Linked DNA regions of Homo sapiens. The protein of the gene in region 1 binds, or shares a complex with, the protein of each later gene. Links are inferred from orthologs where the notes say so. Each region holds a gene or a part of one and is shown on either strand. Other genes may lie near its edges.

Region 1 (3,906 bases):
ATCTTTCTCAACACAGGCCTTTGGCAGTGGGAAGGAAGAGGTGGGAGGCACAGGCCACTCCTGGAATGCAAGGATTGGCTTCTCTGGGTCAAACCTCCCACCTACTGCTCCTGGAAGGAATGGTGTTCTGGGTGTAATCTCTACTTGGACTTTTGCCAACTGCCCCTGGCAGTCCCCATCCCTGAGTCCCTCTGCCTGAGTCCTTGGAGCTCAGCTACTGGGATAGCTGACATGGCAGTCTGGATGCTGACAAGTCCAGGACAGGCCCTGGAAGCCAACAGAATAAAGACTAGAATGGTTTCCCTGGCTGGGTGTCAGCTGTCCTCACTGGCAGCACTGTGGTGCCTTGGAGTGTGGCCAGAGAAACCAGGGGGCCTTACGCCACTGCAACCTGGTCTCCTCCTGGTAGAGTGAGTCAGTTTGACCCTTGCCCCTTCACAGCTCCTGGGTAGGCTCTGAGGCTGGCTCTTAGCTTCTGGGGAAGGAACAATGACAGCTGGGATTCTCTTTCTAATTTTAGGTTCTAAATCCTGAAAAGGTAGGTGTGCTGTCTTAGGCTCCTATTACAGTACCAGGCATACCCCACACCAGTCAGGTATCTGTGTGTACTTCTGTAGGGTGGTGGAAACTTTTTAGATCTGTCTATGGCCTCATGCTCAGTCCCAGAAGCCCAAGGAAGGGCCTGGGACTGAGCCCAGTAGCAGAGAATTTTAAAATAAGAAACAGAGGCCAGGTGGCTACGTCTGGACAGCATCCATCCACTCCGGCCTGCTCAGCCTCCAGGTCAGAAAGCAGGAACTCAGCAGGGCTCTGGCTGCCTCCAGAATCCCATGCTTTGGACAACAGCCAGAACTGCTGTGCTCCTGCTCCACAGCCTGACGTGAGGAGGGAGGGAAGGAGGTCTAGGGAGGCAGATGCCAGAATCCCAGCTAGGGTCCTACCACTACGTTCTGTTCAGACAAGGCAGCTGGCTTGCAGGAACAGGTCTCAGCTGAAAGTCACTGCCATAACCTCGAGCCTTGTGTCTGGAGGCCGGGAAACAGCACTGGCGTGCTACAGGTACTCCCCCAGCCCAGGCAACATTCAGAATCATGAGTGTCAACAGATGCATGCACACACAAACAGGCACACCACTCCCTCCTCTGCACACGCGCACACACACACACATGCTCGCTCTATCTCTGCCCGGTGATCAGCTTCTCTGCAGGTTGTACTCTGCTGCTGCGGTGGCTGCTTGGGCACCCAGGCTTTGCTCACGGAGCAAGGGCTCTGCAGCTGGAAGAGAAAAACAAGTGCAAAAGGAGCATTCAGGAGGCTGCTCAGTTGCCCAGGGACACAAGCTCCTCTGGCTGCTTCTCTGGGGACATTCAGAGCGGGACCTGAGAAGAGCTGAAAGAGTGAGCTGAAAGGGCCACGGTACCTGGGGACAGGTTGTTGCTGGGATGCCACTGGGATGAGGGAATACTGCCCCTCTGAGGTGCTGATGCAGGACAAGCTCCCCACTGCAGGCCCTCCACCCAGGGCTGCGGACAGCAGAGGAGGAGGAGGACAAGGCTATGTGAGAGTCACGTGAAGCCCTGGGGGATACTTGCTCAGATATGACAAGGGCAGCTTCTGAATCAAGGCACAGCAGCTGCTGCCAGAGATGGAGAATCAGGAAAAAATGGCTGGAAGAGAAGCCCGCTGGGACCAGTAATTTTGAAGAGTAAGGCAATGACTGAGTTTACAATCAGCAGGTGAGCACATTTCCACATATAGATGAAAGCACCCTGGCACAGTGCTGGAAGATTGTGGGGGCAGGAGGGAGAGAGGAGACACAAGGATGACTCATTTTAAAGATTTATGACATCCGGAATCTGGGGCAAAGAGAAGAAACAGCTTCATCCCTGATAATAAAGGAAGGACAGAGTGCGCCTGTCACAATGCTGAGTTGTCTGTTTAAATAGGTTTAGTGTGTCTGGGAGTCTACAGAGACACACAGCGTCCCATTAAAAGTTTGTGCAGTTTAAATGTGGGTGAGGTAGACAATAAGTAGGCTTACTAAGCCTGCCGTGGGTCAGGTACTATACACTTGTGCTGTGGCTGAATTCTGTCCCCCACAAAATTCTTATGTTGAAGTCCTAACCCCCAGTACCCCAGAAGGTGACTGTATTTGGAGACAGGGTCTTTAAAGAGGTAATTAAGTTAAATGAGGTCATTAGTGTGGGCCCTAATCCAATATGACTGGTGTCCTTAAAGGAAGAGGAAATTTAGACCCAGACAGTACAGAGGGAAGACCATGTGAAGACATAGGGAGAAGATGGCTGTTTATAAGCCACAGAGAGGAGCCTCAGAAGAAAAGAAGCCAACCCTGGCAACATTTTGATCTTAGACTTCCAGCCTCCAGAACAGTGAGAGGACACATTTCTCTTGATTAAGCCACCCAGTCTGTGGTACTTTGTCATGGCAGCCTGAGCAGACTAACACAACTTGAGATCCCAGTAACCTTGAAGCTTGCCCTCCATTTTTGTAGATGAGAAAACAGAAACCAGAGAGGAGAAGGAACTTGCCCAGGACAACAGCATTCATAAGTGGCAGAGCCAAAAAAGGAAATCCACATCTGTCTGATTCTCAAATCTGTCTTTTTACTAGCAAGTAATCTCTATACGATAGTATTGCTCATTAAGACTTTTAGAGAAGAAGACTTTTAGAAGAAATTCAACATGGCAGCATGAAGACTAATATCCAACAGACATACATGTGAATTAAGCTGTTATTAGAAAAGGGAAAATGCTCTTAAAGTCAAAGACATTGGAGACAAGGATTCAGTATCATGCGATGCTTTTAAGGCCGCATGGTAAATCTGAAGCAGATTTTATCTGATGATAATTTATCTGGAAGCTGGGCAAAATAAAGAGCAGACATAAGAGTGGGTGCCTGTATAGGTCAGTACTGTGTGTCTTATTCTTTTTTTTTTTTTGAGACAGAGTTTCACTCTTAGTGCCCAGGCTGGAGTGCAATGGAGTGATCTTGGCTCACTGCAACTTCTGCCTCCCAGGTTCAAGCGATTCTCCTGCCTCAGCCTCCTGAGTAGCTGGGATTACAGGCATGTGCCACCACACCTGGCTAATTTTGTATTTTTAGTAGAGATGGGGTTTCTCCATGTTGGTCAGGCTGGTCTCTAACTCCTGACCTCAGGTGATCCACCCACTTCAGCCTCCCAAAGTGCTGGGATTACAGGAGTGAGCCACCGAGCCCGACTTTTTTTTTTTTTTTTTTTTTTTTTTTTAATAGATGGAGTCTTGTTCTGTTGCCCAGGCTAGAGTGCAGTGGCGCGATCTTGGCTCACTGCAACTTCTGCCTCCTGGGTTCAAGCAATTCTCCTGCCTTGGCCTCCCAAGTGGCTGGGATTACAGACACCTGCCACCACAACTAATTTTTGTACTTTTAGTAGAGATGGGGTTTCACCATGTTGCCCAGGCTGGTCTTGAACTCCTGATCTCAGGTGATCCGCCCCCCTCAGCCTCCCAAAGTGCTGGGATTACAGGCGTAAGCCACCGCACCTGGCTGTGTGTTTTATTCTTTAAAATGTGTGTTATTTTCAATAATTTTTCCCTTTAAGCTTGTACTATAATAACCTAGCCATTTTTTTGCTACAAATGTATGTATTATTAAGGTGTACATGTATTTATTGAAATGTGCTGATTCTGAGTATATACTCCACACACAGGGCTCTCTCTGGCCCCTGTTGTTAAACTAAAGAGATGGCTATTCTTCTGAAATAGAAAACTTTCAGGATTGCAGGATATACCACAAAAGGTCCTCCTTGCCCAACACCTCCATTTTTTTTGTGTGTGTTTTATCCATTTTCAGGGATGGGGGAAGATAAAGAGTGCATGAAGATTCCTTAGAATAACTGCTGTTAAT
Region 2 (3,906 bases), on another chromosome or scaffold:
TAAAAAAGGCTACATTTAGGGAGGAAATGTGACATCAGGTAGCAGGCTGAATATGGAGCAAGACCCAGCAAAAGCATGAAGAAGAATCTCGGTAAGGTGTGGATGAGCTGTCTGTTTACTCTTGTTTCCAGAACAATGGAGCTCCCCATTGACGTCAATGGGAGGGAAGAAACAAAAGAGCCTTTGGGTGTGTGCAGGGCGCAGCAGCCGGGCCTGGGTTTGCTTGGCATTTGTGTGTGTATGTGTTAGGGAGAGGGGGCGGGGAGTGTGTCGAGGTGTCAATGTCAGAGGAACAGGAGGAGGGGCCACCTGACTGAGTGTGTGAACAGCATGCAGGCCTCCCGGGGCTTCTGTGGGAAGGGCTGCCCCGATGAACTTGGTATTTGCCCTGGTTTGCATCTGAGAAGTTGCACACACACCTTGTCAAGTAGAAGAGAAGGAGTTATCACACTCAGGAATTCCTGATGTGGGTTCATAACTTTTCCTTCTGTCCCATCCCTGGTCCCCAGGTGAGTCCAGGTAAAGAAGAACAAGAAGAGTAAAGAGAGATGCTGCGGGCTCCAGCTTCTTGGACAGTCTCGCCTTCCCCATGAGAGCCTACACATTCAGAGCCTGCTGCGTGGGAGCCTGAAAGCTCCTTCCTGTCCTGTAAGTCTCAGGCTTCTACCCAGACCCGGGGAAATTGTACTCTTTCTCCTGACACTTTAAATGGAAGTTTAGAGGCTCCACATGCCCCACACAATGCTTACCGAAACAAGGTGATGCAGGGTCCCGCGCTGTCTCCCAGGACAACCTCCTACCCCTGGCTCCTGCGTCTCTACGGCTTGCACCGTTGTAAGGCGTCCCTTTCTCAGGGCCCATCTTACCCGCCTTGGAAGTGCTGCCTTTCTCACGGAGCCTGTGGGGATAGCTCTGGTTAATTTATAGCCCACATCGCCCAATTTAGCATTTGATTAAGTTTCCTTTTTATGAGATAGTCCTTTCTCCCTAGTGATGCGCTTGGGGGCAGGGACAACATCATTTCTTTCTTTTGTACCTCCCCAGAGTAACAATGACTCTATTTCCTGAACCAAAAATTGCAACACGTGGTCTCAAAAATAAGAAAGGTCACTTGGTAGCTGCCGGGACAAGTGTCGACCACAGGCACCTCAGAGGCCCGGGTGGGCGTGCCCCCGGAGCTGCTGCAGGGCGGTGCTGCCACCTTCTCCTGGGCTGCTCCGGGGCCCCGCGATGAATGAGTGAGTGAATGAGTAAATGAATGAATGTGAATGCGTGAATGAAGCATGCCGCGCGGACTTTCCCGCGGCCCTGGCCGCTGGGGGCGCGCCTCTGGCCGGTGGCCGGAGGTGGAGGTCTCCCTCGTCCGGCTTCGGCGCGCCGGGTCTGCCAGGCCGGCCGGAGGTGCGCAGGAGCCCCGCGCCCAGCTCCCCCGCCCGCAATGGTACGCGCCACTCCGCGCTCCCCGAGCTGGCGGGCTTGAGGGCGTAGTGAATGGAAGGCGCCGACGCCGGAAGTGGATGAGACCACTAGGGAGGACGACGGGTAGCACGAACGCGCCGCGTCTCCATTGAGGAACCGACGAGGTGAACATGGAGTTCCATGTGCGTCTTATGTAAAAAGAGCGACGGGCGCGGCCACCAATGGGCGCGCGGCGTTCGTAGGCCCCGCCCCTCATGTATGCAGATGAGACGGAGTCGCGGCCAATGGCGGAGGCCGGGGGCGGGCGCGGCGCGCGCGGTCACGTTTTCCACTATGTGACAGCGGCGACTCGGCCGCGGCGGAGGCGGCGGCGCTGAGGGGATACGTGCAGCTGTGGGCGGCGGCGGCGGGCGCGGGGCCGGGCGGACAGAGCCGCGAGTCGGCGGAGGGACCGGCGGACGGGCTGACGCGGGCGCGGCCGGCGGTAAGTGGCGCGGCGCGGCCCCGCTGCGGCTTACGTAACCGCCGCCGGCGCGCGGGCCTCGGGCAGGTCGGGGTCCCAGCGCCGGCTCGGGCAGCGGAGGCGCCGCCGGAAGTTCCTTGGGCTGCTGGACTCCTCGGCTTGAAACGGCGCCGGCGTGGGGGCGTGTGCCCTTGGCCCTGTCCCAGGTGGAGAGTGGTCGAGCCGCGCGCAGGGTGCGCTCGTTTGAACTGCGGTGACACCGAGGGTTGGGGACTCGAACCCCCGCTTCGCAGCTCAGGAGCCTGAGGTCCGAAAGGTGAGGCAGCGTGTGTAGGGCACCGAGCTACCGAGTGACTGCGCGCGGGCTGCGGTTCCGTGGGCGATTCTCTTTTGGGAACCCTCCCTCCCCTCGCATGGGGAAGGCCAAGGAAACCAAGGGTCAGCGCAGCCGGCCCTGGGATCTGGAGGACCCTCGGGGAGCTGACTGCCTCTTCTGAGGCCACAGGGCTAAGTCCTGGGCTGGGGAAGGGCCATGGAGGGGCGCTGATCTAGGAGCTTTTCCTGGACACCCACGGGTCTCCTGGAATGGGTGATCAGAGGGACAAGGAAGTCCCGGTGCCAAGCCAGGCCTGGGAACCTGAGGGCGGGGAGACCCTCTAATGTTCGCCCCTTTGCCTCCCCTGGACCACCCTGTATTAATTCCCTTTCCCCGGACTGGATAGAAGGGAATGGGGGTGTCCACTCTTTGGTGCAGCAGTCGCGCCTACCTTCTGGGATGTACTTTGGCTGCCAAGTCCCAGACATAGACCAGGGGGTGGGAGGTGGCCTGCTTCCCCCTTCAGGAAGGCCAGGGTAAGGGATGACGAGTTGGTTGCCAGGGTTTCTGTAACCTACACAGAAGGAACCCGTTTGGAAAGCTGATTCATACAGAACAACAGAGCCAGAAGGCACCCTGAAAATCACCCAGAGTAACCCCTCAGCCTGACAGATGAGCAAACTGAGGCCCAGGCCCAGGCTGTCTGCAGGATCTTCCCATCGTCCTGGGGCAGGATGAGCTTCAGAGGTTCAGTGATGGCCTCCACTTGCGTGCTGAATCCTGGGTGGGCTGGAATTTGGGAGGAAGGGCCTTAAGTCCGGGAAATGTGTTAAGAACCCCACACGGTGGCTAAAGCCCCACATGGACGCCTCTCACCTGTATATGGCACAGCAGGACTGCTAGACTTCTTGGCCCACCCTCTACCCCCACCTGGGGCTTCTGGTCCCAGGCTGGGTGTGCCTGAGAAGAAAACAGGACTCTACCTGAAGGCTTTATTTGGAAATTGAGTTTTAAAATACAAGGTGAATTGATTTTTGTGTGCTATATGACTATAATGAAGAAAGGGACTCCGTTTTTTTTGAGTGGAAGCTGTGTGGTGTGCCAGCGCGGGGATGGCACCGTGGGTGTTTGCAGTTATCTGTCACTGTCGCCTTGGTATGATTCATTGGTACAGAACTAACGCAGCCCTGGCTTTCTGTGGAGACTGGAGTGCCAGGTGGGAAGGGGGAGCCCTGTGTCAGCCAGCTGGCTGCTGCTGGCTCCCAGTCTGGGCCTCAGTTTCCTTGTTTGTTTGGAGGGGCTCAGATTGGGCAGTCTCAGAGGTCTACTTTAATTCCCAGGTTTTTGGTTTTCTGTTACCCTACAGATGATTTTTCCCAGGTTTCTCGCAGGAGACAGAGGCTTCTGATATGCTCTTGCCTTTGGGCCAAGTAATGTTCTCCTGTGAGCCACGTCTGCAGTGCTTACAAGGAAAAAGGAAAGATTCCTCTCCTGTGCACTACTTCTCGTACCCACTGAACTTTCTCAAAAATACTGGTAGTCACACTGCTGTTTTTAAGCGATGATGTAACTTCACCAGGACTCGGCAAACCACGGCTCTGTCAGGTCATTGAACAGCTGGCAGGGCCACTTGGCGTTTAGTCAGAAGAAAGACAGGCTCTGGGTGTGCTTTTACCTTTTGAAAACTACTCTGTTTGGCAGAGGGAGC

What was found.
Region 2: the proteins of CRY2 (region 1) and PER2 are in contact, whole or in part, in a crystal structure (PDB 4U8H), measured with the Mus musculus proteins. The link is inferred for Homo sapiens from one-to-one orthologs. Residues at the interface, in NP_034093.1 of Mus musculus: Trp58, Ser63, Ser64, Val65, Lys163, Leu166, Thr167, Lys169, Arg170, Glu215, Leu216, Gly217, Phe218, Asn330, Pro331, Ile332, Cys333, Ile334, Gln335, Ile336, Pro337, Asp339, Asn341, Pro342, Glu343, Leu345, Ala346, Lys347, Ala349, Glu350; in NP_035196.2 of Mus musculus: Tyr1132, Leu1134, Gln1135, Asp1136, Pro1137, Trp1139, Leu1140, Met1142, Ala1143, Asn1144, Thr1145, Ile1149, Met1150, Met1151, Thr1152, Tyr1153, Gln1154, Leu1155, Arg1158, Asp1159, Leu1160, Val1163, Leu1164, Asp1167, Gln1168, Lys1170, Leu1171, Leu1174, Gln1175, Ser1177.

Annotation. Positions count from the first base shown.
Region 1 is NC_000011.10:45,878,283-45,882,188, reverse strand, and holds part of CRY2 (cryptochrome-2), read right to left. Parts: intron 1,276-3,906; 3' UTR 1-1,275. UniProt on the Homo sapiens protein: Transcriptional repressor which forms a core component of the circadian clock.
Region 2 is NC_000002.12:238,286,641-238,290,546, reverse strand, and holds the start of PER2 (period circadian protein homolog 2), read left to right. Parts: upstream 1-1,936; 5' UTR 1,937-2,198; intron 2,199-2,649; exon of another isoform or gene 2,650-2,678; intron 2,679-3,906. UniProt on the Homo sapiens protein: Transcriptional repressor which forms a core component of the circadian clock.